Linked DNA regions of Homo sapiens: regions 2 and 3 are each linked to region 1. The links come from fine-mapping of genetic effects on gene expression. A gene starts in region 1. Each other region holds a variant in brackets. All regions are shown on one strand. Distances are between the middles of the regions.

Evidence for each region. PIP is the estimated chance that this variant, and not a neighbour inherited with it, causes the effect. A credible set is the group of variants that fine-mapping cannot tell apart.
Region 2: its variant is the best candidate, but not a certain one, in a credible set for the expression of AGAP1 in skeletal muscle (GTEx, PIP 0.82).
Region 3: its variant is the best candidate, but not a certain one, in a credible set for the expression of AGAP1 in lung (TOPMed, PIP 0.57).

What each region holds. Positions count from the first base shown.
Region 1 is chr2:235,489,038-235,499,089 of GRCh38, forward strand. AGAP1 (ArfGAP with GTPase domain, ankyrin repeat and PH domain 1) reads left to right here and starts at 5,006. Exons shown (of 18, transcript NM_001037131.3): 1 at 5,006-5,812. The coding sequence starts at 5,650. RefSeq lists an enhancer at 6,260-7,133.
Region 2 is chr2:235,751,160-235,761,211 of GRCh38, forward strand. All of the region lies in intron 6 of AGAP1 (ArfGAP with GTPase domain, ankyrin repeat and PH domain 1), which reads left to right. All of the region lies in intron 3 of LOC105373942 (a long non-coding RNA gene), which reads right to left. Among named protein-coding and RNA genes, the nearest start is that of TNRC17, 240 kb to the left of the region's middle. The variant T/C (reference allele first, on the strand shown) is at 5,468.
Region 3 is chr2:235,573,620-235,583,671 of GRCh38, forward strand. The region is part of intron 1 of AGAP1 (ArfGAP with GTPase domain, ankyrin repeat and PH domain 1); the gene reads left to right. Among named protein-coding and RNA genes, the nearest start is that of TNRC17, 61 kb to the left of the region's middle. The variant C/T (reference allele first, on the strand shown) is at 5,704.

The DNA.
Region 1 (10,052 bases):
AAATTGAACGCTAGAAGCAGTGTTTCTTCAAGAGATAATCCCCTGGAATGCAAGCTCACTAAAGGCAAGCTTCATCTTTCACCTCTGTATCCCTAGAACATATCACCCTGCCTAGGATACAGTAGATGATCAATACAGATTTGTTGAATGAATAAATAAGTGACAGAATAAATGAACAAATGAATGGGCTGATCATTCAAACCATCTTTGATATTTCTGGGACAGAAGACGTTCACTACTTTAAGGCTTGGCTTGCTCTCACAGTGGAGTTTTCACTCAGAGCTTATAAGTGCCTGGAAGGACCGTCTCACACACACACACACACACACACACACACACACACACACACACACACACGGCTAGAATTCTTGGCTCTATTCACAGAAGATAAATCTGCAGCACATTCCTGGTAAATGTCACTGGGTCCCATGTTGCTGGAGAAACTTCCATTTTAATTCAGCAAATCTTTATTAGGCACCTACTATGTGCCTGGCATGATGAGAGAACAGCTCTTACCATAGGAGAGATATTGTTGATTAATTAATTTATTGAACGTTTGTTGCATTATAATGCTCCAAGCCCTGTGCAAGAGAAATATGGTCCTTGTCTTCATGACAATTATAATTTAATGGGGAAGCTGTTTGTTTGCCAAACATTTATTGGGTAGCTACTATGTGTCAGCTACTGTTATAGACACTGGAATAGAATGGGGAGCAAAACAGACAAAAATTAATCCTGGCCCTTGTGGAGCTTATGTTTTAATGGGGGACACAAACCATACACAAGATAAATAACTAAAGTATATGGTGAGTTAGACGGGAATAAGTGCTAAGAAAAACATAAAGCAAGTGCATTAATCTCCCATTGCTGCTATAACAAATTAGCACAGATTTAGTGGCTTAAATGACAAAAATTTATTATCTTATAGTTCTGGAGGTCAGAAGTCCAAAAATGGGTCAATAGGGATGTGATCCTTCTGGAATCTCTAGGAGAGAATCTGTTTTCTTCCATTTTCCAGTTTGTAGAGGCAGCCCACATTCCCTGGCTGGTGGCCCCCTCCTGCATCTTCAAAGTCAGCCCAGCGGCATCTTCCAATCTCTCTCTCTCCCTTGCCTTCCTCTCCTCTCTCTCTCTCTTACACCTGTCATCATATCTCCTCTGATTCTGACCCTCCTGCCTTCCTCGTATAAGGCCTCCTGTGATTACACTGGGCCCACTCAGATAATCTGGGATAATATCTTCATCTCAAGGTCCTTAATTTAATCAGACCTGTAAAGTCCTTTGCCACTTAGACTAACATATCTACTTGTTTCAGGGATTAGGATGTGGGCATCTTAGGGGACCATTATTCTTTCTACTGTGGCAAGGAAGGGGGACATGAAGTGTTGGGGAACAGGGATGCCATTTTAGAGAAGATGTTAGGGAAAGTCGCATTGAGAAGGTGGCTTTGGAGCAAATACATAAGGAAACAAAAGTCCTGGTGAAGGGGTCAGGGAGACAGAGAAGCAGATGACAAGGGTGGGGGTGTGATGGGTATATTTAGGGGGCAACAAGGAGGCCAGTGTGGCCGAAGAGGAGAGAACAGGCTAGAAGTAGAGATGCTGTGGCGAGAGAGACAGTCATAGGCTGAATTATGTCCCCAAAATTCATATATTAAAGTCCTAACTCCCAGTACCCCAGAATATGACTATATTCAGAAATTGGACCTTGAAAGAGATGACTAAGCTAAGACGATGTCATTAGGAAGGGGTCTAATCCAATATGAATGGAGTTCTTCTAAGAAGGGGAGATGGGGACACAGACACACAGAGGAAAGACCCTGTGAGAACACAGTGAGAAGGCAGCATCCACAAGCCAAGGGGAAACCAACCCTGCAACAGCTTGATCTTGGCTCTTTGAGCCTCCTGCATTTTGAGAAAATGGATTTCTGTTAAAGCCATGCAGCCTGTGGAAGTTTTTTTTGTGTGTTTGTTTTGTTTTGTTTTTTTGAGAAGGAGTCTCCCTCTGTCACCCAGGCTGGAGTGCAGTGGCACGATCTTGGCTCACTGCAAGCTCCACCTCCACCTCTCGGGTTCACGCCATTCTCCTGCCTCAGCCTACCGAGTAGCTGGGACTACAGGCACCCGCCACTGCACCCGGCTGATTTTTTTGTATTTTTAGTAGAGACGGGGTTTCACCATGTTAGCCAGGATGATCTCGATCTCCTGACCTCGTGATCCGCCTGCCTCGGCCTCCCGAAGTGCTGGGATTACAGGCGTAAGACACCACGCCCGGCCTTTTTTTTTTTGAGATGGTCTTGCTCTGTCCTCCAGGCTAGAGTGCCGTGGTATGATCACAGCTTACTGCAACCTTGACCTCCTGGGCTCAAGCCATCCTCCCTGCACAGCCTCCGGAGTAGCTGGGACTAGAGGCTCACACCACTGTGCCTGGCTAATTGTTGTATTTTTTGTAGAGATGGGGTTTCACCATGTTGCCCAGGCTGGTCTCGAACTCCTGGGCTCAAGCAATCCTCCCAAAGTGTTGGATTATAGGCATGAGGCATCATGCCAGGCCTGTGGAAGGTTTTTATGGCAGCCCTTGCTGGGTAACACAGGTACACAGGTAGAGACACCAGGCGCCTTTGCTCTGGACTATATTCTCAAGGATGTTTGCAGAGCAAACAGCCTTGGAAGACAGAGATAATGTTTTCTGCCACAGTCAAGGGTAGACATGCTTACTGTCCATGATAAAAACAGTGTCTCCCTCTGGAGTGAAGGGCAGACACACTTACTGCCCGTATGAAAGATCTGAGCTCTCTAAGCTAAGGGTTAAAAACTTATAAAACTCGTATAGGGCAGCTGACTCCAAGTACAGGCTTCACCTGGGCCTCATGTTGCCCGTGGGAATTGGGTCTCAGTAAACTGGTGCATGAAAATGCTGATATTCCAGCTAATGCTACTATTATGAATAACAAAGTCCTTTGTTTCTGATCTGGGAGTCTCATGTCTTCTGCCAGCATCCATGAATTGTGGCAGGCTAACTTGTTAGCTTACAAGTAGGGGAATAGCTCAGCCCCTGAGCAGCTCTTGATAAGAGCTCATGCCTGTGGGGCGAGGCCAGATGGGAGTCATTGGAGGGTTTTGAGAAAAGGCATGACAAGTCCGGACGTAGGTTTTGTAAGTTTCACCAGGTAGGAAGCAGTGAGCTATTACAATTGTTAGATCTAGTGATGGTCCAGCTAGATGATCCTGACTTCAGCCGAGTGGTGAGAAGTCGTGGGATTCTGGATCCTCTGAAGGTGGAGCTGACACCATTTGGGATATGAGAGAATGATAAGCAAAAAGGACAGCACTGAATTTTTCGCCTAAGCAAATGGTGGCCTGGAGTTGCCGATGACTGGGATGGAGAAGATTTTTAGGAGATGTAGCCGGAAGGGATGGCAGGAGTTCAGCTGGCGACATGCTGGACTTAAACACCAGCTAGGCTTCAGGAAATGTTGAGGATGCAGGTGGATGTGAATTTGTTATTCAGGGGTGAGGTCACAGCTGGAGATACATATGAGCTTCATTAACCTGTGTATGATATTCAAAGCCATAAGACAGGGGCGATCACAGCAAATAGCAAAGAAAAGAGGCCTAACCATAAGCCCTGGGGCCCTCCATATTTAGAGGTTAGGGGAGTAGAAGAAAACCACAAAAGGGACAGTGAAGCCAGAAACACAGCAGGAAGCCCTGGTGAGCACTGGGAGAAGGGGTTTCCAGGAGCGCAAGTGATCAGCTGCTGCTGATAGGTCAGGTTTGGTGAGGCCACATGCCTGCCTCTTGGTTACTAGAGTTACTTATGCGTGGACAGCCCGAGGCATGGAGTGATGACCTGTGCCTAAGTGTCAAGGAGAAGACAAGCAGGTCCGGAATGGTAAAAATGTCAGCACATCTTTGGGAAGTTGTGGAGCCCAGCCAGTAAGCCAACACGGCTGGATACCAGGGTGCTTAGGCCATAGCAAACTGCATGTGAGCCGGTGAAGGCTCAGCAGGCTTTAAACGGGGATGCCGGCCCGGCTGGCTGAGTTTCAGAAAGACCACGCCGATGGCTGGGGGCAGGGACTCAGCCAGTGTCCTCAATCCAGGACCTTGTGGGACCGCCCGGCAGCCAGTGCTTCCGCAAATCTGAAGGGTCCCATTTGCCTCAAAGCGGCGAGACGAGCCTTCCAAGCGCTGCTGCAGTGCGGTCCCAGCTCCGCGGGGGGTCCCCGGGGATGACCTAAATCGGGGATTGCGGTGGGACAGACGGTCCAGGGGCTAAGGAACCCCGTGGAGCAGGCAGCGGCGCTCAGGAGGCAGCAGCTTGAGATCCACGGCTCGATTTTTAAAAATTGTAAGGGAGAAGGATGCCTCGAAAGCCTCTGTGGTATTTTGTCGCATCTCGCACCCCTGTCTAAACTTCAGTCCACTCGTGGAGTGTGGACCCCCACGCCGCATGGGCTCAGGAGGCGCTTCGCCTTTGGAAAGAAATCGCATGTATTAAGGGAAAGCACGTGTGCTACTTTGAGAAAGGAGGCAGAAAGTTACCAAACGCGGGAAGGGGAGGCTCGCCAACCAAGCGAGGCCGTGGGACACTGGCGAGTCGCAGAGGCTCCTGGAGCCAGCCGCTTGGAAACAAACAACAACGCGGCGGGCGAACTCCCGGGCAGCCTCCCCCGTGCCGGGGCGCGGGGGCCGCCGCGAGAACCCGGGCAGGAGCTGGCAGGCGCGGGGCCTGGCCGGCGGGAGGGTCCCGCACCCCGGCCCAGTGTGAACACCCCGCGCACCCCCCTGGCCCGGCCCGCCGGGGGCGCGGACTACAAGTCCCAGGAAGCCCAGAGGCAGGCGCGGGGCGGGGCCTGGCGCAATTCCCCGGGATCCGGCGCGCTGGGAAGCGCCGAGGAGGACGCAGCGCCGGCGGCCGGAGGGCGGCAAGCGCGCGGGCAGGCGGGGCGCGGGCGCGGGCGCGGGCGAGGGCGAAGGCGGGGGCGGGGCCGACGTGGGCCGGAGCCCTGCGTGCCAGGGAGGGGGCCGGCCGGGCAGGCGGCGGGCGGCGCTCGGAGCGGGCTCCGCGGCTTGCAAGGCGCCTGCGACTCGGTCCCAGGTCGGCGGGCGGCGCACGGCGGGCTCGCGCGGGGGCCCCGGCGCGCCGGGCGGCGCAGTACGCAGCGCGCGGACCCACGCCACGGCCAGGAGCCCAGAGCAGCGCGGCCACACTGCCCAGGGGTCGGCCCTCGGCCCCGGCGCTCGGAGCGCGGCGGCTGCCTGGGCTTTAATGGCTGCTCCGCGGAGCAGCGCCTAGGGCTGGAAGGCGGCTGCGGCTCAGGAAGTCACCCGAGCAAGCCTCCTTCGGGGCCGGCCGCACCCGCCGCGGCGCGCTCCATGGGGGCGCGCTCCCCCCGGGCGGCCCGCTGACCCGGGACGCCGGGGCCCGCTCGCTCGCCGGCCGCGCGTCCCGGCCATGAACTGAGCCCGCGGGCCAGCCCCGCGCCTGCTCCGCCCGCGCCTTTCTTCTCGCGCCTCCTCCGCCCGCCGCCGGCGGGCCCGGCTCCCCGGGGGCTGCGGCGCCCCGGGCTCGGCGGCCCGCGGGCCCCGGGGCGCGGGGCGGCGGCGGCGGGGGGCGCGCGGCTCCGGGCGCGGCGCCTGCACCATGAACTACCAGCAGCAGCTGGCCAACTCGGCTGCCATCCGGGCCGAGATCCAGCGCTTCGAGTCGGTCCACCCCAACATCTACTCCATCTACGAGCTGCTGGAGCGCGTGGAGGAGCCGGTGCTGCAGAACCAGATCCGGGAGCACGTCATCGCCATCGAAGGTGAGGGCCGGGCCGCCTTGGGGCCTCGGGAAGGCACGGACGCCCGCGGCGCGGCGGGGGTGTGCGCTGTGTGCGTGCGGGTGTCCACACACGCCGGCCGGGGCACGCGGCTGCTCCGCCGAGGGAGCACTGCGGCGCTGCTTGTCTTGCAAGGCCGGGCGAGCGTCGCCTGCGCCCCGCCGCGCCGCGAGCTCCGCCAGGAAGATAGATCGTCAGCGTTAATTTGATCGTGGACAATAGAGTCTCTCCTGCGGGAAAGTGGCTCGGTGCCTCCGCGTCCTGGGCTGCCGGAGCGTCCCGGCCCAGCAGACGCCTGGGGGCAGCCGGCGGGGTCGGCGCCACCCGACCCCTGACAGGTTACCAGGCCAGGCCTGGGCGTCTTGCTGGACGTTGAAGACGTGTTCTGAGAAGTGCTGCCGCTGGGGGCGAGGCCCGGGCCGGCGTGTTTGGGCGGTGCAGGGCTGCCCTCCTTAGTGTGTTTGCTTAATTCAGGGGTGCAGTTGAACTTAGTGGATGCCGAGAGCCAGCCCTAGCCGCGGGAGCATCGTGTCCAGGTGCCCCTGTGCAAACGCTGGAACCGGTAGTGTGCTTTGTACCAACCAAAAGTCCGGGGTTGGATTAGAGGAAGAACCCTACCAGGAGGGCAGGGCGTCCTCCAGCGGAAGGGTCTCGCTTTCATATGTCTGCAGTTGGAGGCCACTGAAGTGGAGGGTGCTGTGGTTTTAAGAGGGGCAGGATGCTTGGGCAGAATCCCCACCCGCTTCCCTCTGCATGTCAGGCAGGGCCATGGCCTTCCAGGAGAGCTACAGCAGCAGTCTGCCTTCCGGGGCTGTGCCCTCTGGATTTCTGGTGGCTCTCATTTCTCTGTTTCCAGGCTGCTGATTTATTTTCTTGCTTCATCCCTTTGGTCCGGCCAAGACTCACCTGGGGCACCAGGTGGCATGTGCGTGGACAGTGTGGAGTCATATCTTAGCCACAGTTGATCAGCACTTTCTCCCTTCTCAGCGCTGTTGGCCAGTGATGGTAAAAAGCCTGCAGAGTGGCTTGTCCATAATACAGACTGGCCGGTAAGACCTCTATTGAGGAACATTGAGAATGGCCCAAAGCCGGCAGGAATGTGCCTGAAAGCCTGGTGCTGGCGTTGCCCAGCCTCCTCCCTCTGTGAGGGAGAGGGTATCAGCCCACAGAGAGGCTTTGCCTTGGCACTATGTAGTCTGAACTACTAACCCCGAAGTGCTTTGGTTTGAAACTTGGCCAGTTAGGTGGAGAAAGTGGATGTTGTGTTGCTGAGCCCTTGGCATTTGGCAGCCCTGTAGACTTGAACCATGTCCCAGCCAGGCTGGATGACTGGCAGACTATACCCTTGGGGGACTTGTTAATTCCAGGGGAGGATCCGGGTGGAGCTCCAGCCTTATGGGGTCCTAGCCCTTTGTGTGTATCTGTCTCCCATGAGGTCACCTGGCTGCCTTGTTGGTGACTTAAGATGCTCTGTGGATTCCTCAAGAGATGGGCTCTGTCTGCCTCTGCATGACTCGTGATGAGTGGCGGTGGGACCTGGACCCATCTGCTGATGATCAGGTGGTGTTGCAGCAAGGTTCCTCCAGAGCTCCAGCTCTGCGTCTGTTACGGGAGCTGTGAAGGCTGCACGGTGCTCATTTCAGATGGTTCTTCCTGGCTCTCTGGCTGCATCCACAGAAGTCTGATGAAACACTGTGAAAGCCGGCGTCAGGTATTGAAGGCACCTGGCTGAGAGCCTCTTTTGCTGCATGAAGACCTCTGGCTGAGTGGGGTTCACAACACCTCGTTTTTATTTCCCATTCTTGAAGCTGAGCTCTGGGGCTCAAGCACTTCCAGCAAAGCAGTTTGACTTTCTAGCAAGAGGATGTGGTTGCATTTTCCTTTCTCCCTTAAAAGAAAAAAAAAATGCGTCGTTCCTAGATGATGGTTTTTTTTGACAGCACGATGCCTACCTTTGCGATTTGAGATTTTAGGCCCCTTCTTGGCCGGGATCCTTGTCATTTTTAATAAGGCTTAGAATCATTGGGTGAATCCTGTTTGGGACTGGGGTGATGCTGTTATTTTTCTCTTAGAAATAGGGATGTCTACATTATGTGGAGCTGTAGTTAATTTAGTGAGGCTTAAGAACCACTCAGACATGCTGCTGTTCTTTGCATGTTCTTCTGTTATCAATAATGATACCACTTTTCATTTCTGTAGAACTTTAACAGAAATATTTTTGCATGTATAGTCTCATTGTGTGGCTTCACCAACCCTGTGAGGGTGGGTGGGTAGCTTCCTCATCCTCATTTTATGGAGGAGCGGGTGGAGGTTCAGGGAGGGATAATGACCTCCTTAACATTTGACTGAGGTGGTTTGAAGTCTGATCTGAACCAAGGGATCATTTGAATGGAGTTTCTGTCTCCACACTGCATGTGGATGGCAGGAACCCAGTGCTGGCAACTAAGCCTGCGCTGGAACATCACAGTAACTGCAGAGGGCTCCCTGCAGGGGCAGAGAGCTGCCCCTGCCTGTGCGTGCACCTTGGAGGTTTTAAAGTCTAACTGTTTCCAATCAGGACAGCAGGTGCACATCATAACAAATGGCTCAAAAAGTCACTTGTCCCACCAAATAGAAAGCTGGCCACATTTTAGAAGATTTCCAGCTAGGGATTTTTTCCCCTTCCTCTGTATGTGCATACACAGAATTGGGGTCTGACTTCCCAAGCTTCTGGACTACCGTGATGTGGGCACTTCTTTTTTTGTTTTGAGACGGAGTCTCGCTCTGTCGCCCAGGCTGGAGTGCAGCGGCGCAATCTCGGCTCACTGCAGGCTCCGCCCCGGGTTCACGCCATTCTCCTGCCTCAGCCTCCCGAGTAGCTGGGACTACAGGCGCCCACCACCTCGCCTGGCTAATTTTTTCTGTTTTTTTAGTAGAGACGGGGTTTCATTGTGTTAGCCGGTATGGTCTCCGTCTCCTAACCTCGTGATCCACCCACCTTGGCCTCCCAAAGTGCTGGGATTACAGGTGTGAGCCACCGTGCCCGGCCGGGCACTTCTTAACGTTATGAAGAGCTTTTGAAGATAGGGTTTCTCTTGTTGGCACAAAATTCCCACATTTGGCTGCACCCTACTCAAAACTTCACTGTTTTCTGGCATCTTCAGGAATTTTTGCTGTTGGAGTGAGGTGCAGCCTTGTCCAGGGGAAGGATGTTTTGGCTAATGCTTATTTCAGAGCGCGTGGAGGTGGGTCTGGGTTGTAAAATCTCTTAACGATGGACTAAACATATTTTAGTTGAAAGGCCCACCAAGGCTCCCAAATAAAAACACATCCGTAATCCTGTTTGTAGGCATGGGATACAGGTGATTTTGCCCTCAGTCTTGTTTTAAAACACTAGCTTGTCAGAAGAGAACAGTTTTTTTCCCCCAATTTTTGTTTTGTACATTGAGAGGTTTATTCCCCCCTCCCTTCACCCCCAAATCACTAGAGTTTAAGGAAGCATTGCTGATTGTTCCAGATTTATCTGATCAGGTTTCTGGGATGTCCTATGGGGCATGGCATGCTGTGAAATGTAGCCACACAGCTGTGTCGTCTCTGGAGCCTCCGCAGCCACCATGCCCAGAAATGAGCCTGAGAGCCATCTCGCCTCCAGTCTGAACAGCGTGTGTTAGTTTCCCCTCTGGTTCTCCTTAGAAAAGTCCATCGGGGGTTGATGGCATTGAGGTAGATGAATTAACTGCCTTTCTTGTTCAATAAAGCTTGTTCTTCTTTCAAGGATAAAGCCTCTCTTAGCAGTCACACATCGTAATTCAGCTTGCCAGCAGCAGGACCGTGATGTGAGTGATAGCCCAGCCAGCTCATTCAGCCAGGCGGCCCGATTCCCAGGTTCCCACGCATCGCCGGGAAGGTTGGCCTTCCTCTGAGGTTGAGCCCTCATCCAGCCCACAAGCCTCCATCCCCACCAGGTGGCCGATGAGAGGAAACCCAGGCTCTCCACTGGCCTGGCACTTGGCAGGAGAACCCTGCCCTGCACTTCTTAAGGGCATTTCCACAGGGAGATTCCAGGACCCCTTAGTAGTATCTCAGCCCCAGTGTTTGGGGGACCTGGGAAGATGGGTCAGGGTTCCCCACTTTGTCCCATGATACAGCTGCTCTGTTGAGCATGTGTGTCCCACAGAGTGCGGAGTGTCTGAGGTGCATCATCTCAGTTCGTCCTGCAGCGATCTTGTACACAGACGCACTG
Region 2 (10,052 bases), 260 kb after region 1:
AGCCTGTGCAGATGCGTGGGGTGGGCGGGAGAGGTGGCGTCACCCTGGGGATAGGAGGGTCTGGGGTAAATAAGGACTGATACTTCTAAAGCCAGTCTTTTCAAGTTGGAAGCTTGGGAGAGGCATGGTTCTGGCAGAGGGTCCCCTTGCTGGTGGGAGTGGTGGAAGTCACTTGTAGGGTCCTCTCCCCTTCTGGTTTAAATCCATGGGGGCAGAGCCACCTGTCCCCCTGCTCTGGTGCCCAGGGGGTTGTCGGGGGCAGAGCAGGGCAGCCACACTCGGGCTCTCCAGAGAGTGCTGGAGCCGCTTCAAGGTGATGGAGGACTCGCCGCGCTCTGACCTTGAAGACCCACGGTGAAAGCAGTGGCTGCAGGACTGTTCCCGGGACTTCCTCCAAATGGGGCAATTTTCTATTACATGTTTAAATTAGTCTTCAGATGAAATTGTAGGGATTCTGTACATTCACTGTTCAACTCAGTTTCAAAGATGACATCAGTTCTCAAACTTCACATTTTCTTTCCTGGAGCAGTGAGGTTCCTTTCTAAGCCTGCCGTCTCTTCCCGCGCATCTCTGCCTCTCAGATACTTACCTGTTTTTCAGCACGTTGGTCCTAGTTACTGCTTCATGGCTTAGGTTTCTTCTCGCCTTATCCAGTGCCAATGCTGAAGAAGCGCAGGGTCCCCTGAGGATCAGCACAAAGTCGCTGGGGTCCCACAGCCCCTTCTTCCCTCCACTAACGTATATCTCGGGCACCTCCTGCTGCCTCTGTCGGGAGAATGTCCTGTGGGGAGTAAACCTCATTTCAAGCCGTGCTGGTGAACATGAGTGAGATGTTAGTGAGACTTGGAAGAACTGTGCAGGGAGGCCCTTAGAGCTCTTCTGAGAGGTGCACCCTAATGGAGCAAGGTCACTGTCGGCCGCTGCGCTGCCGAGGCCCCTGTGAATGTTGAAGTAAAGCGTCGTAGATGAAGGGTCCCCAGGCCCGTGCATGAGGCCAGCTGCCTGTTTTCATAAATAGACTTTTCTTCTTTTTTTTGGAGACAGAGTCTAGCTCTTTGCCCAGGCTGGAGTGCAATGGCGTGATGGCAGCTCACTGCAACCTCTGCCTCCCAGGTTCAGGCAAATCTTGTGCCTCAGCCTCCCCAGTAGCTGGAATTACAGGTACACGCTGCCACACCTGGCTAATTTTTTGCATTTTAGTAGAGATGGGATTTTCACCATGTTGCCCAAGTTGGTCTCAAACTCCTGAGCCCAGGCAATCTGCCCACCTTGGCCTCCCAAAGTGCTAGGATTATAGGCATGAGCCACCGCGCCTGGCTGTAAATAGACTTTTCATGACGCAGAGCCACGCTTTGTGTCGATGGGCTGCAGCGGGTTTGGGCCCCTCTCCAGCTGTGACAGCAGAGATGAGGGTCTTTGCGGCCTGAGAAGCCCAGAATATTCACTCTCTGGCCCCGTGCAGAGAGCTTGCCGGTCCCCGATGCAGGATATCAGGGACTCAGTTGTCTGGATAAGTTTAGTTTCCACAGTGACTCCTTTGCTTTTGTATTTATCACGGTTAACATACATGAGTTTTCCATAAATTGATGAGTGCTTCTTATAAAAATAATGTTGTCAATTAATGAATACTGGGGGTTGTCAGGATGATGCTGCCTTCCTGCCAAACAGCCTTTGTACGTTCTGGCTGCTCTAACAAGACCCAGTGGCTTATACAACAGACTTTTACTTGTCCTACTTACGGAGGATGGGAGTCCAGGGCCAGGTGCTGGTGGGTGTGGTGTCTGCTGAGGGCCATCCTCCTAGTGGGATATGTGTTTGCATAGTGGAGAACAGAGGACACAAGCCCTCGCCAGTCCCTTCCCATAAAGGCACTTAACCCATCACAGGGTTCCACCCTTGTGATCAGTCACCTGGCAGAGGCCCCACCTCTTATTCCCCTGGGGGTCAGGATTTCAGTATAAGAATTTGGGTTGAGTTCCATACCACACCCAGCACGTTCAAGGCAGAGGACAGGCAGCCACCCACCTCTGTGTTGGAAGCATTTCGTTTTCTTCAGGTTGGGGGTGGCAAGAGGAGAATAAGGACTGATATTTCTAAATATTAGTTTAAAATATTCAGAAAAAGCGTTTCCGTTACTGTGACAGCTCATGTCGCACCTCCCCAGGTGATGCTGTGATGAGTGTCCGTTTTCATGGGCACAGGAGATTTCCGTTCCAGTTTCGTATTATAGAAATAATACACTCTCATTATGTATTCGGATTTTGGCTGGGCGCAGTGGCTCAGGCCTGTAATCCCAACACTTTGGGAGGCTGAGGAGGGCAGATCACCTGAGGTCCATAGTTCGAGACCAGCCTGGCCACCATGGCGAAATCCCATCTCTACTAAAATTGCAAAAAATTAGCCGGGCATGGTGGCAGGCACCTGTAATCCCAGCTACTCAGGAAGCCAAGGCAGGAGAATCGCTTGAACCTGGGAGGCGGAGGTTGCAGTCAGCTGAGATTGCACAATTGCGCTCCATCCTGGGTGACAGAGCGAGACTCTGTCTCAAAAAAAAAAAAAAGTAGGATTTTATGGAATTTGAAAAGCAAATACCTGTGAAGCTACAACTTCCGTGACTATTGCGATTTTTTTGTCCTTAAAATATTTTCATATGAAGATAACATTTTTAAAATAAAATCAGTTACTTTGTATATTTTATATCATAGTTATATGGTATATGGTTTCTTATTTGTATATGTATTTTCATGTAAATCACAAACACTCTCATTGTTAGTGAGAAAAGTAGTTGCTGAGTAGGAGCTTTATTCAGTACTTAGCAATCCTTAATAACAAAGTAAAAATCCTCAAGGAAAGTTAAACATTGTAAGGTTTATATAAAGTTGAAGAAATTGAGGCTCAGAGAAATGACATAGCTTGACCCAAAGGGACACAGCCTGGACTGGATCCCCCATCTTGGGACCTGAGAGCCTCGACTTAACCACAGCACCGGGACATTTTGTCATTAAAATGGAAGCAAATCAGGTCCTGGGGCCTTAAGAACACACCAGCTTTGCCCACAGGTCTGGGGAGGGCCTTGCAGGGGATGCACCCAGCCAGCAGGGCCCCTGCCTGCTCGCCGACTCAGTTTATTCACATTTCTTGATAACTCTCTGGCTTCTTTTTTGCCCTAGGGCTTACTTTGTTTATTTACTTTTTATACCTGTATATGGTAGAAAGAAAACATAAAGGAAAAGCGTGTAATTTCTACATAATGTTTGGCTTGTAAATAAAAAAAAAAAAAAAATCCAGCTGCTTCCATTGCCCTGCGGAGGCCATGTTCCTGATTGGCTCTGTACCGAGGTTCATTTAAAAGGCCAGGGACCTCATTCTTTCTTCTCCAACATTTGACTTCTTAGTGTCTTGTAACAAAAGGACATTGTAAAAATGAATGGAGAAACCTTGCATTCACTTTTTGTTCGCTTGTGTGGTCCTGTTTACTTTGCTTTCATGGAGTTTCCAGATGGCTACTGGCAAGTGGCTGTAGGTGTTGGGAAGCAGCCTAGCAGGCTGGTTCATCCACCCAGTCACTCGTTCATCTGAGCACCAGCTTCCCACACACTGTGCGTCTGGTCAGGGGCTAGAGGCAGATTGGGAAGCGCAGGCAGGGTCCCTTCCTCCGTGAAGTTAAGGTCCACTAGGGAGGGTAAACATCAAACGGTCACCCAGAAACATGACCTTGTGTCTTGCTCAGGGGTGGAAAAGAAGTGTGGCAGCCCAGGCTGCTTTCTGGGGGTGGAGCGTTCTCGCTCCTGCTCACAGGCGAGTTTGTGTGGCTTGCGGGGCTGGGTGAGCTGGTTCCACAAGATGGTTTCTGCTTGACCTGGGCAGCTGAGCCGGACGTGGGCTGTGGGTACCCAACCGTTTGGATTCTCAGCAGAGCCCTGGGGAAGGGAGGCACTGGGGGCTGGGGCGGGCTGGATGTGCGGACTTGGCAGCTGGGGGCTGCAGGTCCGTCTGCAGGGACTGCACAGGGCTCTCGTTCCTAGATTGCTTCACAGCCAGCGGCTCTGTGCCTGTCAGATTCTGCATGGCTCTGTTTGCCTCTTCCTGCAACTGGGAAATAACCTATATACAAGTTTTTCTATTTTTAAAGTTAAAATGGTGATTTCAGTGTTTGGCATTAAATTTTTCAAAAGTCCCTGTTGATTTGTTCTCCTAGGGCCTGGATACATGAACATGAAGGATTACAGAAAAATAAAGTTCATTCCATGTAGACATTGTTCCTCTGGTCCTACGATCCCTCCCCTTCCCCTTCCCTTTTTTCGAGGCAGGGTCTCTGTCACCCAGGTTGGAGTGCAGTGGCACGATCTAGACTCACTACAGCCTCTACCTCCCGGGTTCAAGCAGTTCTCCTGCCTCTGCCTCCTGAGTAGCTGGGATTACAGGTGTGCGCCATCATGCCCAGCTACTTTTTGGCTATTTAGTAGAGACTGGTTTTTGCCATGTTGGCTAGGCTGGTCTTGAAATCCTGGCCTCAAGTGATCCTCTGGCCTCGGCCTTCCAAAGTGCTGGGATTGCAGGCATGACACACTGCACCCAGCTTGCGATTCTTCTTTAAAGAGACATTTTTCCCACTTCATATGAAGAAGCAGCTTTCTGAGTGGCAGCAAGCAGCTCTTCTGGACAGACAGAGTGTGTGTCTGACATGGGACTGTAGTCAGGTCTCCGGAAGGTCAGGAAGGGTATAGTTTTGGTGATGGGATTTTTCAGCCTACATGCTGAAAGGTCACCTAAAATAGTTATAACTTAGTGACAAAAATAAATCCTCCCTTCAGAAGGCCAAGTCATGTTCAAGGTGGTAGCAAGCTGTGTATAGGTAGCAACAGGGCCCCTTTGAGCATTACACGTGCACCTTGGGAGGAAGAGAGTGGAGAGCGGGCTCTGCCTGTATATTCTTGGAGATGGTGCATTCAGCACTGTCGTTCCCTGCAGTTAGGTTTTGGAGAGTGTAAATTTTAGCCTGTCTTCAAATGCTTTGAGTTTCTCGTCTTCCTGAGTAGCGTGTTCGGAGCTTTCTCTGCTGCGGGTGGCGGTGCCACAGAGGAACACAGGGGCCTGTGTTGTGGCATCTGTTCAATCGGGGAGACAGGATCAGGGTTTTTTTGTTGGTTTTGACATTCTTGAGCCAATGCACCCTAACTTTTATTGGGCATAGTTTATGATTGTTAAATTATGGTGTCTTTGTGGTAGCTGTATGGCATGTGGGATTTTAAAGGCCCCTGATTCCTAAAGAAAGAGGGGTTTCCCTTTCATAGGCAATCAGGAGTACAACCTGATAGTGGTACAAAGAATTGTTTTCATTTCTTCTCCAAGCAGCTCGATGCCCTTTCTCTCTTCACTCCCCCTCTCCTAGAATGAGCTGATAAAGATGTACGTGAGTGGTCCACAGTGTGGTTTTATGCATGGATTGTTTATTTGCATCCCAGCA[T/C]GTTTTGTATACAGCAGGGGTCCCCAGTCAGGCTGCACAGGAGGTGAGCAGCTTGCAAGTGAGCATTACTCCCCGAGCTCCGCCTCCTGTCGGATCAGCAGCAGCCTTAGATTCTCCTAGGAGCACGAGCCCTGTTGTGAACTGTGCATGCGTGAGATCTAGGTTACGCATTCCTTAGGAGACTCTAATGCCTGACGAGCTGAGGTGGAACCGTTTCATCCCAAAACCATCCCCATCCCCCACCTGCCCCCCAACCCCTGATCCTCAGAAAAATTGTCTTCCATGAAACCAGTCCTTGGTGCCAAAAAGGTTGGGGACTGCTGCTATATAGAATTTAATATTCTTGCATGCATTTTCTGAACCTTCTAGTCACTTGTTAAATCCCAGTTCAGAACATCACATTAGATATATGATCTGCACTGTGCTAGGACGTGCTCCCCACCAAAACGTCAGCGTCTTAAGCTTGTATTCATATGACCATAGGAAAACCTACATGCAGAACTTTGATAGTAGTTGTTAGACCAGGTCAAGATCCATGTCAAAGAGATAAATTACAAATTATCATCTCTCTGCTTAACGGTCTCCAGGGCCAGTTTGGTGATCTCACATAGACTTCTGTCCTAGAACAGATCTGCATTATTGTGGAGGGAGAGACAGTAGGTTCTAGGTGTATGGGAAAGCTGGGCAGTGGCACTGGAAGGGCGCTGTGTGCCAGGTGCTAGCGCTCCCGGGCCCTGTGTGCCAGGTGCTAGTGCTCCCGGGCTCTGTGTGCCAGGTGCTAGTGTGGCCACAGCCTTGTGGCTTATTAGGGCTTCCTCTGTTCACACGCTGTGTACATCGTCCTGGTGGATGGGTGTTTATCTGGTAGAGTAGTTCCTGGTCTAGGCAGATCCATGTCAGTCCTTTGACCTCATTGCCCCTGGCTTTTTATGTTTGTGCTGCAGTTAACATTCTGGAAAGCACTTTTATAGAAGCCATTCCATTTGTCTTTTGTCCCTTCCCAGTAACGGCTCACCTGGGCCTATCTAACCCATGCCGAGAGCCCGAGCTGGGAGAGGTTGCATGATTTTTACCAAGGTTGTGCGGGAAGTCAGGGAGCCTCGGTGTGCTCTTGATGCTTTGCTTCCAGAGATTGAAATCCTGGTGTGTGCAAAGAACCCCATCTCACATTAAATGGCTGCAGCTGCCTGGTCCTAATTACAGGAGTGTCCAGAACCAGGGGAGCTATGTTAATGAGTCCGTTTGTGCAACCTAATTGCACGCACTAGAGCATCTGTGAATGTAAGCAGTCTTCTGGGCCTCTTCTCCTGGGTCCTGCATCATCTTGGACCATTTTGTTTTGCTCACACCACAGTCCTTGTGCTGTTAAAGGATGTATCAGTTAAGCCTATTCCATTCTTTCCTGAAATCAGCTTAATTTTCATTGTCGGGGTGGCCTGTTTTATGATTTGTTTTTGTTGCTATTTTTTTCTCCTTTATTACAGATTAGATTGGAACTAGTGTGTGTGTGCATGCGTGCATGTGTGTGTGTATATGTGTGTTAGCGAGGGAATACTTCAAAAAATAAGATTTTTTACACTTGAAAGCAAGCCATGTATATGTGTACATTAGGCACTTGATATATGTTGAAAAGGTGGATTAATGGGTCATTAATTGTCCATTTTTTAATCACTTGTAGTAATGACTAATAATTATGCAACAATTTAACGGCTTATGATGTAGGATAGTGGATCTTATTAGGCCCAGTTTACAGCTGGGACTACATTGTTGGAAATGCTGCCTTCCCAGAGGTACATGGTGCAGCTGGTGTCAGGCGAGGCCATCATTTCCCGTTTCTACCTGTGGTCTTGGCTGTGCACCTGTACTCATCACTGTCCCCGTCTCTACACCCTCACCCCCTCCACACATTGAAAGTCTTATTTCTAAGACTTCCTGGGACAGATGGGTGGTAGATGTGTATTGGGACAGTATGAAAGAGGTTCAGCTGCTTAAATTACACTTCATTAAGGGGGTTCATATTTGAACATTTTCTGAGAACAAAGATGACATGAAGAAAGTGACCTCTGTAAGGCTCTGGCAGCACTTATGCGGTACCAATACAAATGGGGGTTGGGGGCTGAGCAGAAAACATTCTTCAAGAGTTAAATGATCAAGTCACGTAAGGCGTGTTGTTTTTGTTTTGTTTTGAGACAATGTCTCACTGTCACACAAGCTGGAGTGCAGTGACACAATCTTGGTTCACTGCAACCTCTGCCTTCTGGGCTCAAGCCGTCCTCCCGCCCCAGCCTCCCAAGTTGCTGGGATTACAGGTGCGTGCCAGCACACCCAGCTAGTTTTTGTATTTTTAGTAGAAATGGGGTTTTGCCATGTTGCCCAGCCTAGTCTCGAACTCCTGAGCTCAAAGCGATCCGACCGCCTCAGCCTCCCAAAGTGCTGGGATTACAGGCATGAGCCATGGCACCCGGTCATATAAGGGGGTTTGATGCTGGTTTGGGAGACATTCTGGTGTCGTTAGCCCTAGGGTTGTTGATGTCATTCTTTTTTTTTTTTTTTTTTTTTTGAGATGGAGTCTCGCTCTGTCACCCAGGCTGGACTGCAGTGGTGTGATCTCAGCTCACTGCAAGCTCCACCTCCTGGGTTCACACCATTCTCCTGCTTCAGCCTCCCAAGTAGCTGGGACTACAGGCGCCTGCCACCACGCCCGGCTAATTTTTTTGTATTTTTAGTAGAGACGGGCTTTCACCGTGTTAGCCAGGATGGTCTTGATCTCCTGACCTCGTGATCCGCCCGCCTTGGCCTCCCAAAGTGCTGGGATTACAGGCGTGAGCCACCGCGCCCGGCCCTGGCAGCTTCACATGTAGGGCCATCCAGTGCATGTGAGAATCTGCAGATGGTCTCCAGAAGAGCCACATCTGACCTGCCTAGTAGCTTATCTCCCAGCGAATGGGAGAGGTGCAGACCTGCTGTTGACTGTAAGGAGACTTGATTCAGCCTGTTGGTGGGGGCGCACATGTGAGGAAGAAGCCTTGGTGGGTTTGTGTGGGTCTTTCTCTTATGCCATATCCCTGGTTTATATTTGGATGGGAAAATACATAAATGTTTGATGGTGATCATTTTTATGAAACATGACATTGTCAACTCCTTTCTTCATATGCATTTTCGAATTCAGTTCTTAACCAAAGAAGCTCTTTCTACAACAGGGTTAAATTATAAACTGAAATAGCAAATTAATACCAAAACTAAAATAAAGCTTTTTGTATAGTAAACCATACATTCAGAGGTTTAAAAAAATCCAACAAAATGAAAAATACTTTTGAGTTACTATTTTTAGAAAAAAATTAGTTTGGGTTGAAAAATTCTTACCCTCATGAAGCTATAAAAGCACATGTTTTACTGATGAGAGAAGCTTCTGGCACATCAACTGAGACAAAAATCTTCCATATTCACTCGGTAAATACAAATACAGAAGATGGGCTGGGCGCAGAGGTTCACAGCTGTAATCTAAGCACTTTGGGAGGCTGAGGCAGGCGAATTACCTGAGGTCAAGAGTTTGAGACCAGCCTGGCCAACATGCCGAAACCCCCCTCTCTAAAAATACAAAAATTAGCCAGGCATGGTGGCGTGTGCCTGTAGTCCCGGCTACTCGGGAGGCTGAGGAGGGAGAATCTCTTGAACCCGGGAGGCGGAGGTTGCAGTGAGCTGAGATCACGCCACTGCACTCCAGCCTGGGCGACAGAGCGAGACTCCGTCTCAAAAAACAAAACCAAAAACAAAATAAATACAAATGTGTAAGATAGAATTCGTTATGAAGCTACACCAGACATTTTCAGGAGTAATTTGAGAATGTGCTTGAGGTGATTATCCTTAAATCATCCAAGTGTTTTTGAATATTATTTCAATTATTTCATCTTAGAAGTATGAAATCAGCTTGTTTCTTGTTTAGAGTTGCCCTTTCTTTTTATTATTATTTCTTAATTGAGACAGGATCTCGATCTGTCACACAGGCTGGAGTACAGTGATGCCATCATAGCTCACTGCAGTTTCAGACTCTTGGGCTCAAGCCATCCTCCTACCTCAGTCTCCTGAGTAGCTAGCGCTACTGGTGCATGCCACCATGCCCAGGTCATTTTTCAAAATTTTTGTAGAGATGAGGGTCTCGATGTATTGCCAAATCCAGTCTCCAGCTCCTGGTCTCAAGTGATCCTCCTGTCTCAGCCTTCCAAAGTGTGATGGGATTATAGGCGTTAGCCACCACTCCCAGCAGCCCAACTTTTAAAGGATTCTCTCTCAGTCTATCGCTTGATTTGCTTAACACCAGCCATTTAATATGAAAATGTTTAGGTGGGGGAGGGAATATCTTAATTATCATTGTGCTCCATACGCTACAGATGGCACCTGCTGGCCTTAGCAATATGGGGTCAAGTATGAAACATGATAGAGTGACACCCAAGGAACCTATAAGGAAAGGAATTTTGATTCTTTCAGAAATAACAGGAAGAAATTATCTTAAAATCTTAAGGTTGATGCTGCAAACAACCAGAGACAATAAATAAATTGTTATTTAGTGATGTTGCAGAATATTGTG
Region 3 (10,052 bases), 85 kb after region 1:
AGAAGGAAGCGTATGGAAGAAAGTGTGGCAACAACACTGCTGACACTGGAGGACAGAATTCTGGTCTCTGCAAACGGCATGAGTGCGCCCCATGAGTGCGCCCCATCACCAGCAGGTGGGCTTGGCAGGTGTGCCCCGGCTCATCTGGAGAGTCAGGTCAGGGGTGGCTGGTCAGGATAGCTGTTACCACATGGAATGTGCATTCCTAAATCCAAATGCTTGCCTCACCCCAGTGCTGAGCCTGGCCAGCTGAGAGGCTGGAGACCCCGTGTATTCATGGCTGGGGCTGGCTCCTGGCAGAGCCTCCCAGCGGGTTGGCATTCTGTTCAGCTTTCCCCTGCTGTCGCACAACCTTTTTATTGACCCCTCCCTTCCTGTGTTGGCCAGGAGCCCACTGGCTTCACCAGACCCTGACTGTTAGCTGGTCAGGGAGGCAGGGCCTGGGTGCCTTGGGGCCTGTCCTATCTGAGGTCCACAGCCTGCAGGGACATCACCTAAAAGTTGTCATCAGCTTCATTAGCAGCACTCAGGCCCAGCTGGGCATTCAGCTGTGACTGCATTCTGGCACCTGAAGCATCTGGGCCTGGACGGACTCTTTCAGGTTGTTTGGATAATCATCCTAAAAACGCCTCTGAGATCCACCCCCACTCCTGCCATCAGGCATTAAAATCTTCCGAACAGAAAAGCTGAAAATGTTCCCTTACCTTAAGGGAAAGGCCTCAATGGATTGATTTAATTGTATGTGTGAAGCATTTTTTCTTCTTTGCTAAATGCATAAACTGTATAACGAAATGTAATTAGTGAAGGTGCATTATCTGATAAAGTAAATCTCAGCCACTGGGAAGAGCCCTTTTTGGCAGTGTAGTTTCTCTTTTAATAGCTGTGATCAGATTATACCTTTAAATCTCTTTAAACACTTCCCACCACTGAAGTCTTTGGTTTCCTTGATTTGATAGTTTTTACCAGGCTGTTCAAAAAGTCAAGCAGTGTTCTTTTAGGTCCTTTTTGGTTCTGTGCGACAGTTAATGAATAGTCATGTGCATTTGACCCCTAAAAGGAAGGTCTTTTGCTTTTTAAAGAGACTGTATTAAGAGGAATAATGGACCAAGTACACCAGGAGGGAATGAACGAGAAAAATAAAAGAAAGAAAATCACACAAGACCAAATAACTAATTTTGAATATTTTCTGAGACCTTTGGTTTAGAATCTAAACTTTGTTGAGGCTGGGCGCAGTGGAGCACGCGTGTAATTCTAGCACTTAGGGAGGCCGAGGCAAATGGATCACTTGAGCTCAGGAGTTCGACACCAGCCTAGGCAACATGGCAAAGCCCTGACTCTTCCAAACATACAAAAATCAGCGAGGCATGGAGGCAGACACCTATGGTCCCAGGTACATGGGAGGCTGAGGTGGGATGATCGCTGGAGCTTGGGAAGTTGAGGGTGCAGTGAGCCACGATCGTACCACTGCACTCCAGCCTGGGTGACAGAGTGAGATCCTGTCTCGAAAAAACAAAAACAACAAACCAAAAAAAAAGGTGACATTGAGAATAAAGAGATGGTGGTTGGATTTGTGGCTATTTTTCCAGCTGCTCAATAGTTGTACAAAATGTAGCTTGATATGATGAGTGTTTCCAAAATTCCTAAATTACATGTCATGTTTGTTGATTATTTGTATATGTTTTAATGTGTATTAAAAAGACACCAAAGGTGTGAGTTCATAAATATTAATACTTAGGATAAACTTAAGATTTGAAAGAATTTAAAGTTGAAGAGAGTTGAAGTAGGTGATAGTTTAGGTGGTCTTTGAATGTGGCAGAAGCCACAAAGGTGGTGCATGAAGTTTGGGAAAAGCTGAGCCGAGGAAACTGGAAGGCTTTCTCCTTTAAGGACCAGTGTGATTCTAGGCTGTTGAATGATATCTTCAGATACCCGTTTGTCCTGTTGCTCTGCCTCCTCCGTGAGCTGTGCTCACGGGTGGCCAGGTGTTTGACACTAGTATCCAGAGACAAACTCAGACATGCGCCCTGGGCTCTACTCCTGGAACCTGGGAGAAAGGGCTGCCGTAGGGAAAGGTGTGAACGCACAGGTTTGCATGCCTAAAATTATAACACTTTTTTATTGCAAAGGTTCTTTTCAGCTTTTTTCTTTTCAAGTAAATGGAGATGTGTCTTTCTTCTGTTTCTGGTGTCCTTTTTCTTTCCGTAAAATAACCACCTCTTTACTGAGATTGGGGAGGGAAGTCTGTCTCCATTGAATTGTCTGCTGTCGACATCAGATAAGACATTCCCTTCTGTTCTGTTTTCAAAAGAAGATGATGTGAAAAAAAAGTGGCATTTTTATGAGACGTGTTGTCCCCTCACATAACTTCTTGGATACCTTTCCCTTGTCCTAGGGACCTAAGCCTCTCTGGGTGTCACTGTCCGTGCACAGCCTGTGATAAGCCGCTGTGTGGCAGAGACCAACTGTGGGTGATTTGTCGCTCCCCAGAGCCCGGTTGCAACAGGAGGAGCCACCAGGCTGGGAGGGCACCAGGCAGGAGGCTGGGTCCATACCTGGCGCAACCCTGGGCCTCAGGTTCCCCAGTGGCAAAGGTAGGATAGGGGCTTTGGTCGCCTCTGTGCTATGAGTCTTTGTCCAGTTTGTCAGTCACCATATTCGTTTTACTCTCCAGTCTTTTCTATAAAAGTGTTTGGGGGCCAGAAGTTGTTAACCTGGTTCACTAGAAGCTAATGCATTGATTATTTTTGTGTGTGTTGTACTCAGCACGTGCTTCTCAGTGCGCTGTGTCCTCATTTGCTGTTTCCCCTGAAGTTTGACGAGTATGGTATATTCTGGTCACCAGGCAGGTGGTGCTTGGGGAATATCTCCTCTCCGTGTGCTGGAAGCATTGCCTGATTTTAATGAGGTGACTCACTGCAGCTGGTTTTAAGAACTTTGTTGCAGGTATTGGTTGACTGCAGTGTTCCCAAGTGGTCGTGCTGTGCCCTAAAGGCTGCTAGAACCTCAGGGGCCGTTGAGGGCAGGTTCGAGTCCCGCAGGCAAGAAGGTGGAACTCTAGAGAGGAGGGGGATGCCTTGGCCTGGGCCCCCTCTGAGGGAGGACTGTCGCCCCTGCTGCTGGGAGCATCATTAGCTGCAGCTCCTCATGGAGAGATGCCCAGCGTAAGGGTACATCCTGTCAGACCCTCTTCCCGTGACTGTTCTTCCAGGGTGTGAAGGGCAGAAAGGTGGGGCCATCTGGACCCATCATGGGACAATTCTAATGGCCTCTCCATTGCTCCCTGTTGGGTTGGCGAGATGGCCTCAGGTTTGCCTGGCAGTTCAGCCTCTCTCTGGCCAGTTCTGCTTCTTCCCCTCCTTCCACAGGTATCCATCTTCCCTCCATACCCCAAATGCCAAACTCTACCTCTGCATCTTCACCAAGAAAAGCATTTCTGTTGTCCTGAAATATCAGGCCTTCCTGAACCCCCTTGTACCTCTGTCCAGTGGAAGTAGAATGCCAGCCACATACGTCATTTAAAGTTTTCTACTAGCTACATTAGAAAAAATAAAAGAAACAGATGAAATTAATTTTAATAAACTGTTTAATCCAACATATCCAAAATATTATCCTTTCATTGCAATTATCTGGAATTTGTGGACGAGGTTTGCTATAATCCTGTTTGGTACTGATGCTTTGGGTGGTGCTGTGTAATGTTCATTCATCGCACATTTCAATTCGGCCACATTTTAGTGCTCAGTAGCACCTGTGGCTGGAGCTACTGTATTGGGCACCACGGCCTTAGGGTTTTGATTAAAACCCCATTCTCTTGACCTTCTGCCCAAAGCCTTTGCCAGATGAGACACTGCCTCTCGCTGAATGCCTGCTTGGAGCAGAGTCCTGTGTTTGTTTGGAAATGATCGGAAGCTCCTGTGTCCCTGGTCGCTTGCTGGAGTCGGTGGGAGCTGAGAGTCCCTTGCTGCCCGGAGCATGGCTGTGTGGCTGCCTGACTACATGGTTCTTCCCCCGGTTATTTTTGTTTGGGCAGTTAACTCTGAGCATTCGGAACATTCGCCGAGTGGAACGTGTGTGTCGTCATCCCCTCGAAGGCTTGGCTGATTGAGCCAGTAAACAAAAAGTGCATTCAACACAGGCTTGTCTGCTGGCCTCCCCCGGGAGAGAGAGTAGGTTTGCTATTCCTGAAATGTAATCCCTCCTTCAGCGCTGCACAAAAGGCCCATGTCTGCTCGCTGGGACCTGATAGTTCGCCTTTGTACGGATGAAAAAAACCAAACACTGAGCCTGGTCTGAGCGGGGCTGTTTGTTGAGGCTCCTGATGCAGACAAGGGAGCAGTGTCTGCACAGGGGGTCTGGATCGCACCCGACACCATCCAGGTGCCTGCGTGTGCTGGTCCCGCCATCAGGACTTCCCCTCGTGAGGAGCTGGGTACCACTGTTATCCTGCCTGCTGGTCTGAGGGTCCGAGCGTGATTGGGAGCAGAGACAAGAGTTCCAGGGCGAGCCTCAGTTCTGGGACCACCATTGACCAGTAGAGCTATAAAGGACTTGGCCACCAAGGTTGGAGCTGAGCCCCCCATGTCATGAAACTGCCACTGTCAGAGCCAGCCTGAGCTCCACGGTGCCCGTCTCCTACCTGCACTGTGCCCCCACACCTTTGTTGACAAGGACCTGACCTCTCCTCAAACTACAACCTAAGAACCACAATGCCTGTTCCCCTTACCTGCCCCCAGGTGTCCTGGGAGAAGTCAGTGACATGATTAAGACCTTTAAAAATGATGGTAAGCATGTGCCAGTGTGAATGTACTTAGTGCCACTGAGCTGCACACTTAAAAGTGGGTAGAATGATGCATTTTGTGTGTATTTTGCCACAGTTTAAAAAATTACAGACTGGACGCAGTGGCTTATGCCACCCCAGCACTTTGGGAGGCTGAGGCAGGCGGATCACTTGAGGTCAGGAGTTTGAGACCAGCCTGGGCAACATGGTGAAACCTCGTCTCTACTAAAAATACAAAAAAATTAGCTGGATGTGGTGGTGTGCACCTGTAATCCCAGCTACTTGGGAGGCTGAGGCAGGAGAATTGCTTGAACCCAGGAGGCGGAGGTTGCAGTAAGCCGACATTGTGCCACTGCACTCCAGCCTGGGCAATACAGCGAGACTCAGTCTCAAAAAAAAAAAAAAAATTTTTTTTTTACAATAAGCTATTTAAATAAACATTTGTGTATAGCCCAATAGTTTTTCACTGTTGAGGGTCAAAATTTTACCTTTGTCTACCTATCTGCCTGTCCCTCTAGCTGTCAGTCACACAGACGGATATAGATATGTAATTTGAATTACTTCTGTTTCTTTCTCTTTGCTAGTCTAAGTCTTAGAAGAATTAAGGGTTTTCTTATTACTGGCTAAAGTTAAAAGGTACCCAGTTGAATCATCTTGGAAAGAAAACCAGGAAACCAAATTATCACCATGAAGCAGCCTTCCCCAGCTTGTGTCACAGTGGAGCGCTCATTTTTGTGGCTGGTTTACTGTCGTAAAACTTTCGTATAAGGGCGCACTGTGTCAGCCCCTGCCCACTGAGGGCTTCAGAAATGAAAGGCAGTTCTATTTATGCCCAGCTGGCTTCTGCAGAGCCGGGCTCAGTTTACCAGGCGACACTTTTGCTTTAATCCTTCCTGGTGTGACGTAACCTTTCACTGTCCTTCCCATGC[C/T]CTGAGGTCTCCAGCCTTTTTGTTAAAACAAAACAAACCTTATTTGGGCATGATCAATACAGCTGTGGGTTGCAATCCCAGGGGGCGACTTGGCTCTTTTGTTGTTGTCGTTAAAAAATATTGAGGCAAAATTTACATAACATAAAGTTAAGCATTTAAAAGTGAACACTTGGCCAGGCGTGGTGGCTCACACCTGTAATCCCAGCACTTTGGGAGGCCTAGGCGGGCAGATCACGAGGTCAGGAGATCGAGACCATCCTGGCTAACACAGTGAAACCCCGTCTCTACTAAAAATACAAAGAAATTAGCCGGGCGTGGTGGTGGGCACCTGTAGTCCCAGCTACTCGGGAGGCTGACACAGGAGAATGGCGTGAACCCAGGAGGAGGAGCTTGCAGTGAGTGGAGATGGCACCACTGCACTCCAGCCTGGGCAACAGAGCGAGACTCCATCTCAAAAAAAAAAAAAAAGTGAACACTTACTTAGCGTATGCACCACATGGTGTAACCACCCACCCGTCTAGTTCCAAAACAATTTCATCACCCCCGCCCAGGGGAAACCCCATGTTCTTCAGCAGTCATTGCCCATTTCCCCCTCTCCCTAGCACCTGACGACCGCCAGTCTTCTGTTTCTGTGGGTTTGCCCATTCTGGACATTTCATATAAACAGAACCATACAACATGTGGCCTTCTGTGACTGGGTTCTTTCCCTTAATATAATGTTTTTGAGATTCATCGAGGGTGGTAGCATGCATTGGTGCCTCATTTCTTTCTACAGCTGAATGATATTTCATTGTATGGAGGGACCACATTTTGTTTATTCATTCATCTGTTGATGGGCGTTTGTGTCCATCTTTTGGCTACAGGGAACCATGCAGCTATGAACGTGCGTGTACAGGGATTTGCTTGAGTTGCCATTTTCACCTCTTTGGAGTATATCCTTAGGAGCTGAGTGGTTGCTTGGAAAGGTAATTGTATTTGACTTTGAGAAGAACCGCCATACTGTTCTCCCCATCATTAGTGGTGAGAATGAAGACGTGCCGGCCGCTTACATTTTGTCGGGTTGATTTCTTCATTTTCTTGCATCTCCTTCACAGTGGCAGTGCTGGCTTTTCCCTCGGTGCTTGTTGGAGGCAGTGGGGGAGGGAGGGTTGGGGAGGGTGCGCTTTCTACTCCACCATTCTAGTGTCTTCTAGAGGTAGAGTCGAGTGTATCTGAGAGTGCTTCTCTCTTAGAATAAATGACATTAACATATGAAAAAACAGCTACTTGTGCCTGACTATGGGCATTTTCATGTACAGGAGTTCTTGAAGCTGAGTTTATTGAGAATGGTTTTGTTACCTGCTGATAGCTATCTTTTTGTGTTTAGTTCTTTTTGACTTCTTTGGCCTCTAATGTTTTGACAGTGGCACTTAGATGACAGTCAGCAATTGCAACAGTGAATGAAATCACACAGCTTGAGTTCAAGGTGGAAAGAGAAAAAAATCTAGAGAGGATGTTATCTGACCTGGCATGAGAGGTGATCATCCTGTCTCTGAGCAGTGGGTTCTTGCTCTCGACCTTAGGGTGTAATGTGGCCCTGCTCCTTGTATGGTGAATAACTTGTGACTGCTGTGTTTACCACATGGCTTGACAGTTTACAAAGCACTTTTGTGTATATTATTGCACACTCTGATCCTTACAGTAATCCCGTGAGGTGTGGAGTGGAGGCTTTTTAAGAAACAGAGACTGCTTTGGGAGGCATAGGTCGGTGGATCACCTGAGGTCAGGAGTTCGAGACTAGCCTGGCCAACATGGTGAAACCCCATCTCAAGCAAAAAAAAAAAAAAAAAAAAAAAAATGCCGGGCATGGTGGTAGGTGCCTGTAATCCCAGCTACTTGGGAGGCTGAGGCAGGAGAATCACTTGAACCTGGGAGGCAGAGGTTACAGTGAGCTGAGATCATGCCATTGCTCTCTAGCCTGGGTGACAAGAGCGAAACTCCGTCTCAAAAAAAAAAAAAGATGGAGGGTGAAAGAGATGGAGACTTGGAGGTTGCACACTGTTCAGTGGAGGTGCAGGACTTCCAGCTTGGTCTTTGTCCCCAGCTTTTTAAGAATTCAATCATGAAGAAGATTGTTTATATTGTTCTTTTTTTTTTTTTTTTAATGGATTGAGTGTGAAACTGGTGGAAATATATTCCAGGAGGCCATTTAAAAAGAAAATAGGCTGGGTACAGTGGCTCATGCCTGTAATCCCACACTTTGGGAGGCCAAAGCAGGCAGATTGCCTGAACTCAGGAGTTCAAGACCAGCCTGGGCAACGTGGTGAAATTCCGTCTCTGCTAAAATACAAAAAATTAGCCGGGTGTAGTGGTGCATGCCTGTAATCCCAGCTACTCAAGAGGCTGAGGCAGAGAATTGCTTGAACCCGGAAAGTGGAGGTTGCAGTGAGCCGAGATCGTGCTACTGCACTCCAGCCTGGGCAACAGAGCGAGATTCCATCTTCAAAAAAAAAGAAAGAAAGAAAATAACAAGGTTACCATGGAGATCCTGCAGTCACGGGGACATTCTCAAACATCACAATGATTGGTGTCAAAAATTGAAACCTGGAAGAAGAAAACTGGACTATGATTGTTGAATTAGCACCCGGGGAGGTTTTATTATTCTGTGTTCACCCCAGGAAATTCTTAAGGCCTGAGTGTTGATGTCCTTCAGCAACCCAACATATTAACGCAGTCTTTAGGAGACATGAAATGTTCCTTCCATCCAGGGAAGACGTGATTGCAGCAGGCAGGAGTTGATAGTGATGCTATGGGGCTGTCTGCTCTATACGAGGAGCAGAGACCCCTGGATCCTAGTGGTGGCCCCTGGTCACCAGATGTGAGCCCTGGAGCGCATGATTGTGGTTTTGACCCATTCTTGCCCCAGCTTGAGCCTGACCTTTGGCAGGTCCAGGAGTGTGCTGAGTCTTTCTACCCCGCTGCGTGGTGCTGCCTGCCGAGGTGGTGTGGCTCTTTGTGCTGGCATTTAGGGTGTCACTAAAGCCCAAGACCAGGATTGCTTGTCCTTTGCAGTGTGCTGGACAGGAGCCACACAGTGTAGAAGCGACTTGCCCTAAATGCCTCATTGAGAAGCATGGGTGTCCCCTTAGACATCATGGGAGCTCATTGCATTGATGAAGCCCTCTTGAGTCAGATCGTGGGGTTGGTTGGTCATGCGTGTAATTATGTGTTGAGGTTTGGTGCCTTGAGATTAAAGGGATGCCACATTTTGAGCTTCTCAGATATAAAAGAAGGATTCTTTGGGGGAGGACCTATAAATATTTCTTAAAAGTGTTTTACAACAAAAGCACGGAGTGTACTTCAGAAGGAAGGATTTAGCTGCTGGAGTGATGGCCGAAGGAGCCTGGGAGAAGTCAGAGAGAGGGGGCTCGTGGTCCTTCTTGGGCTCTCATTGCTGTTAGCAGGAGTTGGCACTTGAGTCCCACGTCCTAGCCTCCCGGCATCACAGCCTTATGCTGCATTTCCTAAAGTGCTTTCTAGCACTGACCGACTCCAGGAGGCAGCACTGGCAAGGATTTTGGTGAGCCTTTGATGGAGTGTGTTCCGGAATCGGGAGGAAGCTTGTAAGGCTGCTTTCCACTCATTTTATGTTGTTGGGATTTGGCTCGGAACCTGCCAAGGACCCCTGTGTGTTAAAGTTGAAATAGTTCCCTAGTAAACTGGCCACTTTCAGACCAGCTGCATTTTCTAGAATAAACTTCATTTGTCCTTGACTCATAAAGGGAAAAGCCAGAAGCCAGGGGCTCTGGGGCACCTCCAAGTGGGCCAGGGTCAGGTGTGGGTCCTCTGCCTGGGTTTTAATGTAAACTCAGGGTTTTAATGTAAGAACCTGTTTTGTTTGCTTTTGTTTTTAGACCAAGTCTCACTCTGTTACCCAGGCCAGAGTGCAGCAGCCATAAACATGTCTTACTGCGGCCTTGAACCTTGGTCTTAAATGATCCTCTTACTCAGCCTCTCATGTAACTCTGGGGTAACTCCAAGTGGGCCAGGGTCAGGTGCGGGTCCCCTGCCTGCGTTGGTCTCACTGCCATATAACCCCAGCCATGGTGATCTTACCAGAGAAACTCATTTGAACCTATGCGGCTGCTTCAGGCCGGTGGTTGTTGGCCTGATAGGAAGAGAGCATACTCAGCCTCATACTCAGCCTCTCGTGTAACTGGGACCACAAGCATGCACCACCATACCTGGCTAATTTTTTTTTTTTTTTTTTTTTGGTAAAGATAGGGTCTCAGAGGTTTGGTGTGGTGGCTCATGCCTGTAATCCCAGCACTTTGGGAGGCTGAGGCAGGTGGATCAGTTGAGGCCAGGAG